Homo sapiens: one gene and its partner. The protein of the gene in region 2 purifies or fractionates together with the protein of the main gene of each other region. This does not show direct contact. Each region holds a gene or a part of one and is shown on either strand. Other genes may lie near its edges.

Region 1 (5,208 bases), on a different chromosome or scaffold from region 2:
CCCTGAGTGAGGGAGAGAGGTGCAGCTGTGACCATCCTCTCCATTCCTGGACAGCACGTTCCCCGAAGTACAGTGCAGTGAAGGGTGGGGCAGTTCCCAGGCTAGCCCACAACAGTCTGGAGATAACATGGAGAGATGGGAAATCAGGGCGGGGGCAATGAGGGCACACAAAAGGGCAAGGAAGAGAACCCACCACAAATTAGGAAACAAACATCCCACAGAGACAGTAGGCTGGGACAGCAGATGCAGCGCCGTCACGTGAAACCCCGCAGTGACACCAGTCAACATCTCCCACAAAACATTTCTATTTTGAGTCACTGGCACAAGCTCCTGTTAAGTGCAGCTTTCCAGTGAGGAGGGAGGGCTATTGGCCCTGGGGGTCTCAGAGCTGTGGAAGTCAGAGGCAGGTGGCAGGCTGGCCTGGAGGTGATGGTCTCCAGGGACTGTGAGAAGTGAAAACACCTCCTAAGGGTCACAACCTGAAGTTTTAAACTGACAACAGAGACTCCATGCCAAGCCACTCACCAGCAAACAGCAAACCTCCCATCTCCCCTCCTCTGTCTCTTTTTTTTTTTTTTTTTTTTTGAGACCGAGTCTCGCTCCACAGCCCGGGCTGGAGTGCAGTGGCGTGATCTCGGCTCACTGCAAGCTCTGCCTCCTGGGTCCATGCCATTCTCCTGCCTCAGCCTCCCAAGTAGCTGGGACTGCAGGTGCACACCACCACGCCCAGCTAATTTTTTGTATTTTTAGTAGAGATGGGGTTTCACTGTGTTAGATAGGATGGTCTCAATCTTCTGACCTCGTGATCCACCTGCCTCGGCCTCCCAAAGTGCTGGGATTACAGGCGTGAGCCACCAAGTCTGTCTGTCTCTTTCATTCTTTCTTCTAGAACTAATAATTTCCTCCTTATTTGTTTATTTAAACTTCCATGTGGAATACTGGGGGAAAACAGCCACAATATTAGGGAGCTCTTCCCATCAATAGGTGGGGCCTCCTCCTCTGTCTTCTGAATCAGGGCTTGACCATGTGCCTTGCTAACAGGACATTAGCAAACATGACACAAGCAGAGGCTTGAAAAATGGTTGAACATTGAGGTTGGCCTGCCCTCTCTTGCTTTTCCTGGCAGCTCTCCAAATACCATGGGAATGAGTCCAAGCTAGCCTGCTAGAGAAGGCCCATGGAGGAGAACCAAGGCACCCTACATGAGTGGCCAATAGCCATTCATGTGAGTGAGGCCATCCCAGAGACCATCCAGCTCCAGCCAATCTTCCAGCTGGCTGTGGCCACATGAGTAAGCTCAAAAACCCAGCAGAAGAGGCACCCAGCTGAACTCAGCCCAAATTACCAAGCAACCAGCCAAATTGCCAAGCAAAACAAGAGTGAATAAATGATCGGTGTTTGTTTGTTTGTTTGGGACAGAGTTTTGCTCTTGTTGCCCAGGCTGGAGTACAATGGTGCAACCTTGGCTCACTGCAACCTCCACCTCCTGGGTTCAAGTGATTCTCTTGCCTCAGCCTCCCAAGTAGCTGGGATTACAGGCACCCACCATCATGCCCAGCTAATTTTTGTATTTTTAGTAGAGACAGGGTTTCACCATGTTGGCCAGGCTGGTCTCAAACTCCCGACATTAGACGATCCGCCTGCCTCAGCTTCCCAAAGTGCTGGGATTACAGGTGTGAGCCATCACACTTGGCTGTAAATGACCATTGTTTTAAGCCACTACATTTCAGGGTATGAATACAGCACATTGTTACACAGCAAAAGCTAACCAATACACTCTTTGGAAAGAGATGTGTGAGTTCATAAAGAGCAGCTGCAAATTCCCAGATAATAACCACAAAAGCTAAGACATTGGTGTTATCACCACATATATTTCAGTACCATAAGTTCTACTTGATTTACAAAAAAAAAAAAAAATGCTAGGTAGTGGCAGTTCTTTGTTCTTGCAGTTGGAACTTGCACTTAAGCCAGAAGTACAGGCTAAAAAATCAACTTGTATCTCTGCTCTTAAAATAATACATAGAACCTATAAGAGCTACATCTGTCTCTGGTTCACGATTGTAAACAAAACAAAACAAAAGGGCTACAATTTATTTATTAAGATATTGGTTCTAAATTCCTCACATATTTGTCCTATAATCACAGCACTCCCCACAAAGTAGGCACTATTGTTATCTCCATTTTGCAGATGAGGAAACTGAGGCACAAGATTATGTATCTTGCCTAAATTGCAGAGTTGGTAAGAGATAGGAGGGGGAGCCAGGATTCAAATGCATTTCTGACTCTACAGTTAATTGCTACCTAGGACTAACACCCAGCTCTGTCACAGATTATCTGTGAAACCCTGAATAAACTGCTTATCCTCGCTGTGCCTCGGTTTCCTTATGTATAAAATGAGGTAACTGGTCTAAATCATAACTTCTTGACCTGAAAAGGGTTCTAAGGACGAGGTTCAGGACCAACCATGATCTCATATAACTGTCTGCAAAGTCTTTGAGGTGAATATGCTTTGGGGGATTGTGAAAGGAGCAGTCAGTAGGATTCCAAAGAGGTCTGCAGTCCAGGAGAGGATAAGAAACACTTGACAGGCCAGGCGCGGTGGCTCACGCCTGTGATCCCAGCAATTTGGGAGGCCAAGGCGGGTGGATCACCTGAGGTCAGGAGTTCGAGACCAGCCTGGCCAACATGGCAAAACCCTGTCTCTACTGAAAATACAAAAATTAGCCAAGCGTGGTGGTGCACGCCTATAGTCCCAGCTACTCAGGGAGGCTGAGGCAGAAGAATCACTAAACCCGGGAGGCAGAGGTTGCAGTGAGCGAAGATTGCACCACTGTGCTCCAGCCTGGGTGACAGAGCAAGACTCTGTCTCAAAAAAAGAAACACTTGACAATGTACTCTCTTAAAGGCCCTTTCCAGGACAAGTTTCTTTTAAAGTCGAATCAGCCGGTTCCATAAAATTGCTGCCAATAACACAGAAACAAGCCAGCATTGGCAGTGCACAGCCCTGGGTACAATTAAATCTGTTCTTCGGCAACCATGAACTGTGATCAATGGTAGGCGTGGTCCTGGTCTTCACTCTAGGCCTGAGTAGCACGTGTCTTTCTCTCACACCCCAAGCCCTGAGAAAGCAGTTATAGACTACAGGAACCACAAGAAGAAGCTCTCACAGTTTCTGTCCAAAGCGTACCTTGCCTAATTTTCCAGGAGCCTGGCTCTTTGTAGCTGCTTCGTCTCTTGACGTTTACCCAGAATGAGTCATTGTCCTCATACCACTGTGCCAGCTGTGGACCTCACTGCCAGCCACACGCTCTATGCTGTGCCCAGATGCTGGGCATCTCTCCTTCCTAGCCACACCCTCCCACCGCCAACGCTTGTCCTATTTGCCTGGGAGACTGCACGCCAGTTTGATATGCAATGCACAGACAGCTGCTTAAAGCTGTTGGCCCTGGCTCTCCTGAGACTCCTCTAATCTCAGCAGACTGGTTGACTCTAAGCCTGTCATGAGCTCTGCTGTGTTACACAAAAACTGTTTGAACTTTTCCTTTGGGCAGTGAAACCTCTGCCACACAACATTGTGTGTGGAAGCCTAAGATAGCAAACAGATCAAAGCTGAGCGGCTGTCGTCATTCAAGCTGGAACAGGGGCCCAAATCCCACCTGCTCAACCCTTCTCTCACTCTCCCACCCCCTAGAATCCTCTGCCACTCTCAGGAGGCTTTAGGGAATCTGGGGGAAATTTTTAAGCCATTGGAGTGGCAGAATCATGACCTGTATGTGTGTGTGTGAGTGCAAGATGAGGAAGAGAGATGGGGGTGGGGAGGGAAAGAGAGAAGAAGAAAGGAAAACTGAGACAGAAGAGAGGCAGAGATGGTGGGGATGAAAAGCTACATTGGGGATGTAGGGGGAAAACAGAGAAGAAACTCAGATTATAAAATCAAAGAAGACAGATGAATTTACATTTTATGAAAGAGAAAGCAGAGACGGAAGGAAAGAATCAGCTACATCAATAGGAAGGGTTTAGAGCCTTCTTCGCGTGTCCAGCCTGGGGAGAGCCCCTGGACTCTCAGGCACCTGGGGTAGCATGTAATGGACGAGGGGGATATGAGCATGTGAGAACGTGGGAGCAAACATTACTAACATCTTGGCGAGGGTCACACCTGGGGTGGGGTGATGCAACATCTGGAGGAAGGTGGGTAATACCTGGACCAGCCATCACCATGTACTGCAAGATGGAGCCCTCCAGATGCAGCAGGGCAGGCCCTGCCCTCAGGCTGACAGTCCAAAAGGAAAGAGAGACAGCCCCCAACACCCATGTTCACAATGCCCATACCTTCACGACAACTTGCTTCATCCAATCCTACGACCAACCGTTTGCAAAAATGGCTCCCTGCATTCCTCTCCCTTAAGGAATCCCTTCCCTACAGTGACTTTGGTTTTGGTCGTATGACTTGCTTTGTCCATTAGGACATCAGTGACATTACACAAACAAAGGCTTGAACTTGCCCTGTCCTCTCTGACTGATCTTGGGAACCCTGCACCACCACCACACAAACAAGCTTCAGCTAGCTTGCTGGATGATGGCTGCACTGGGCCAGCTCATCCCCATCACCCAGGTGACACTGAGCCAATGGCCAGTCATGTGAGTGTGGCCATCCCAGCCTATTCAGGCCCAGCCTAGATGACCCAAACCAGAACTGCTTAGTTAGCTCACAGAATCATGAAGAGCAATAAACTGTCATTTTGAGCCAATAAATCTTAGGGCTGCTTGTTATGTAGCAAAAGCTAACTGATACAAATGCAAAGGTTTCCTCTTAGAGAAAACAGCCCTGTCCTGTTCAGAAGTTGTGCCGGCAACTGAGTATTACGTGCAACATGTATCTAAGAGCTCCCTCAGAAGCCTTGGAAACTCCACTCCAATTTACAGCCTAAATCTGAATCTGTATGGTAGGGTGAAAAGAGTTATTTTATCAGCCCACAACAGAATCTTGGAGAGGGAGCTGCATCTTGCAAGAGGCCTGCAGGCAATCTACAGAAACTTCACATGGGTGAGGAAAATCAAGGGATGTGGTCATTTCCTCCAAGTGGGTTGACCTCAGGAGAGGAAACAGCCCTGGGGGAGGCAGATGACCCAAGGGATCTGCTGGGCAGGGGCTCAGGCCAAGAAGCACTCACGAGAAGGAAGGCCCAAGAATTGTCCCCACAGATTTCT
Region 2 (3,500 bases):
TGCATCTCGAGGTGGAGGAGAGAGAAGTGTCAGCTCATTCTTGACTGTAAACACATCTCAGTTCCCACGCTTCTGATCATGTTCTTGTGGCAGCCCCCACCCCCATCCCCTTCTCCTGTCCAATCCCCTGGCAGCTCCCCCACCCCATAAGAGAGACTTTTAAAAAGAAGATACAGAGCCCCTGGGCTTCCCATCTGGACTTGGGAAAGAGTAGAATCATGGGGAGTCCTCTGCCAGCAGCCTGGATTTGGATCCCAGCTCTGACACTCCTGGCTGTGCGGTCCTGGTCAGGTTTCTTACCCTCTCTGTGCCTGCTTCCTCATCTCTGAAGTGGGCCATAACACCTACTACAAGGGGTTAATGTAAACTTTAAATGTGATGATCCACGTAAATCTCTCAACACCCTGCCTGTCGCAGCTCAGTGAACGATACGTGGGGTCACCTTATGATTCTCGGGAGGGAAGGTGTTTGAGTCCCTCAAACCAGAGGCTTGGAGGGTGAAGGTTGAGTAGGGGAACAGGAGGGGGCCTCTGCATGAGAAGAAGCAAGCCTGCAGCAGGGGTGCTCCAGGGTCCCCCTCAGTGAGTGCACTGTGGGCCCCCAGGGCAGAGCAGGGGTCCAGGAGTGGTCTCATTTCACCCCCTTGAGGGGTATATGCAATCTCTTGGGTATATGCAATGGGCCCATTGCTGCTGTGGCTGGAAGGGGTTGGGGGAGCATGGGCCAGGCTCAGGTGCCCTGCCCCTCAGGGACAAAGGCTTAGATGGGAACTAGCCTGGAGGCCAGGCTGGGGCTCTGGGCTCCTGGTCTGGCCTGTGTTCCCTTCTCAGAGGCAAAGGATGGTCAAGCCAAAACCTTCCTCTTCCTGCCAGGACCCCCATCTCATCTGTCCCCTCCCGGGGCCACCCACTGATCTCCCCTGACCCCACCCTGGCTTCCAGCCCCTGGGCTGACCAGCTGATGCCTCCTCCGCACTCTGGCCCTACCCTGAGGACCTTTGGGAAAACAGAACCTACCCACCCTTCCAGCCAGCTAACCTCCCAGCCAGCCAGAAGTGGGTGGGGATGAGAGTCAGCTCCTCCTCATGCTCCTCAGTCCTTCAGTCCATCTCAAAGTCCCCCAGGTGAACCGTGTCCTCTAGAAGTTGGCTGGGAGGAGGTGACAGGGACAGGACTTGGGTGGGTAGGGGCTGACAGGAATGGGAGGAAGGACCTTTTCTCGGCCCAACAACAGCTCAACCTATATGGCACTTCCTCCCTGGGCCTTAACTCGACTCCTTCCTGCAACAAGTTTTGTCCATGCCACCACGCCATAGGCTCTGTGAACAGATCCAGGGCAGAAGGATGGCTGGGGAGTCCTTGTGTGTCTCAGGAGATGAGGCTCACCCAGGGACAAGGGTGATGAGCCTGGCTTCAGACAGACTGAGCTGCAGTTGGAGCACAGGGGCCCCACGCCAGGGCCAGAGCTGAGGGTCAGGGAAGAGGGGAGTGTGGAGACCGAGAGATGAGGCAGAGGCATATGGAGGGCTCGGGGTCCTGACCAGGGCCCTGGCTGCCAACCACACTGAGGGAGAGGTGGAGAGAAGGTTAGCTGGGGCTAGGCAGAGCGATCCCTGGAGTGGGCATTGGGCCTGGGAAGATGGCTGGAGCAGGGCAGGGTGGGAGGGGATGGTTTGGGGACATTGGGAGAAGGGATGACTCTATTTGGGAGTGGGGATGTGTCTGGGTGATGTGGGGGTGGAGCTCTGGGACAGACTCTGGGGAGTGTCTCTAGGGCACTCCTGACTGTGGCCTCTCCCCTTCAGAGGGGGCCACAGTGTCAGCTCTGGAGACAAGCTGCCAGAAAGAGGCTTCTGGTCATGGCCCTCCCGTATGCTACCCACTGCGTTCAGGATGGTGGGAGGATGGAGCCACCCCCGTCACGCTCCCTGCTGTCCCCCTTCCTAGCCAGGCTCTGTTTCCTGTTTTCAGGCTTCATATCCTGAACGCTGGGATCCCCCAGGACATTCCCTGGCCCCCAGGCCCCAGGTCCCAGGCCCCAGGGCTGAGCTGTGGGCAGGCCCCACCTGGTGAGTTACTTGGGGACTGAGGATGGATAGGAGGAAGCACAGAGGAGGCTAGAGGCTGAGATTCGCCCTGCGGGAAGTGTGATGGGGCATGCGGCTGGGCTGCACTGGAGGGGTGGGTAGACGCTGGCACTGGGAGGATAGGTGGGCCAGCATCCTGGATGAAAGGCTGGAGATTTGGCTGCTGGAGGGTTAAAGGTGAAGGAGGAACATGGGCGGCTGAGATGGGGTTAATTTAGGAGCCTAGACCTGGAGGGAAGGAGCGGCTGCCCTTCTTGGGGCTGAGAGTGGCTTTGGGGACCCTGGGAGTGTGTGGGTGTGGGGTGTGGGGTAGGGCCAGGCAGCAACATTCCAGAGATACTCAGGGGGGTAAGGGGCCAGCAACCGCGACCTTTCTCTCGTCTCAGAAAAATTATAAGCAGATGTGGGCGCCTCGGGGAGGCGTAGAGCAGGGAGCCAGAGCAAGTTTTGGGAACACGGAATGCAGACCCTGAAGCCGGCTGCGGGGATGGGCACTGCGGTAACTCATCCTCTCCTGAGCTCAGGAGCTGAGGCAGCAGAGCCGTCTGAAGTGCTGGGAGCCAGGGGTGGTGGGGATGGAGAGGACCCCATTTCCGAATGGCTGACAGGGCAGTCTGAGGGAGGCGGGAGCTTTTCCTTAAATGCAAGGCCAGGTTGGTGACCTCTTCAGGTGATGGCACCTAGAGTTGGGTGTTGTGGTGTGCTGGCTAAGGTGTCACAACTGACTCTGGGAGGGAGACTGGCCTTGGGTTTTAGTGTTTGCTAGTTTCTCTGGTGTCAATAACCCCCCATGCCTGATTTCAAGCTACTCACGTGACATCACTGAACATGTTGCTAGGAAGAGATGCATACAATTGGCTCTCTGGGCCCGTATGAGGTGGTTCCAGCACACCACTGGTTGGGAGGTCACCTGGACCCAGCCCCACTCCCACCATATAGAGCAGGAAACCCCTGACAGCGTTTCATCAGGCTGGTTTTGGCTTCTGCCTGCATATGTCCAGTGACAGGGAACTCACCACCTGAGGTAGCCGATTCTATTCCTGAGCCGCTCTGACTGTTGGAAAGTTCTTCCTCTGACTGAGCCCAAGGCTGAGTCCCTCATCACTTCCCCTCACTGGTTCCAGTCTCACACCTTGGTACAAATATCAAAGTGCCCTGGGTAGGGCCTGGGCTGGGGGCTGGGGATTCAGAGATGAAACGCACTGGGTCCCTGCCTCTGGAGGTCATGGTCAGGGAGCAGGCACTGGAACAGTGGGGTGGGGGTGAATGATACTGGGACCCCCAGAAGGAATGAGTGGGATCATCTGCCAATGAGCATCAGGAAGTGGAGGAGGGAAGGGGTGGCACCTGAACTAGACCTTGAAAGATGGGAACTCCAGGTGAAGAATGAGACGTGAGGGTGTCTAAGCAAACT

What was found.
Region 1: the proteins of PEAR1 (region 2) and ZAP70 purify together in Homo sapiens (affinity purification with western blotting, with the first as the bait; one study listed by BioGRID). This does not show direct contact.

Annotation. Positions count from the first base shown.
Region 1 is NC_000002.12:97,726,432-97,731,639, reverse strand, and holds part of ZAP70 (tyrosine-protein kinase ZAP-70), read right to left. Parts: intron 1-5,208. UniProt on the Homo sapiens protein: Tyrosine kinase that plays an essential role in regulation of the adaptive immune response. Regulates motility, adhesion and cytokine expression of mature T-cells, as well as thymocyte development.
Region 2 is NC_000001.11:156,900,218-156,903,717, forward strand, and holds part of PEAR1 (platelet endothelial aggregation receptor 1 isoform 1 precursor), read left to right. Parts: intron 1-1,970; exon of another isoform or gene 1,971-2,068; intron 2,069-2,393; exon of another isoform or gene 2,394-3,500.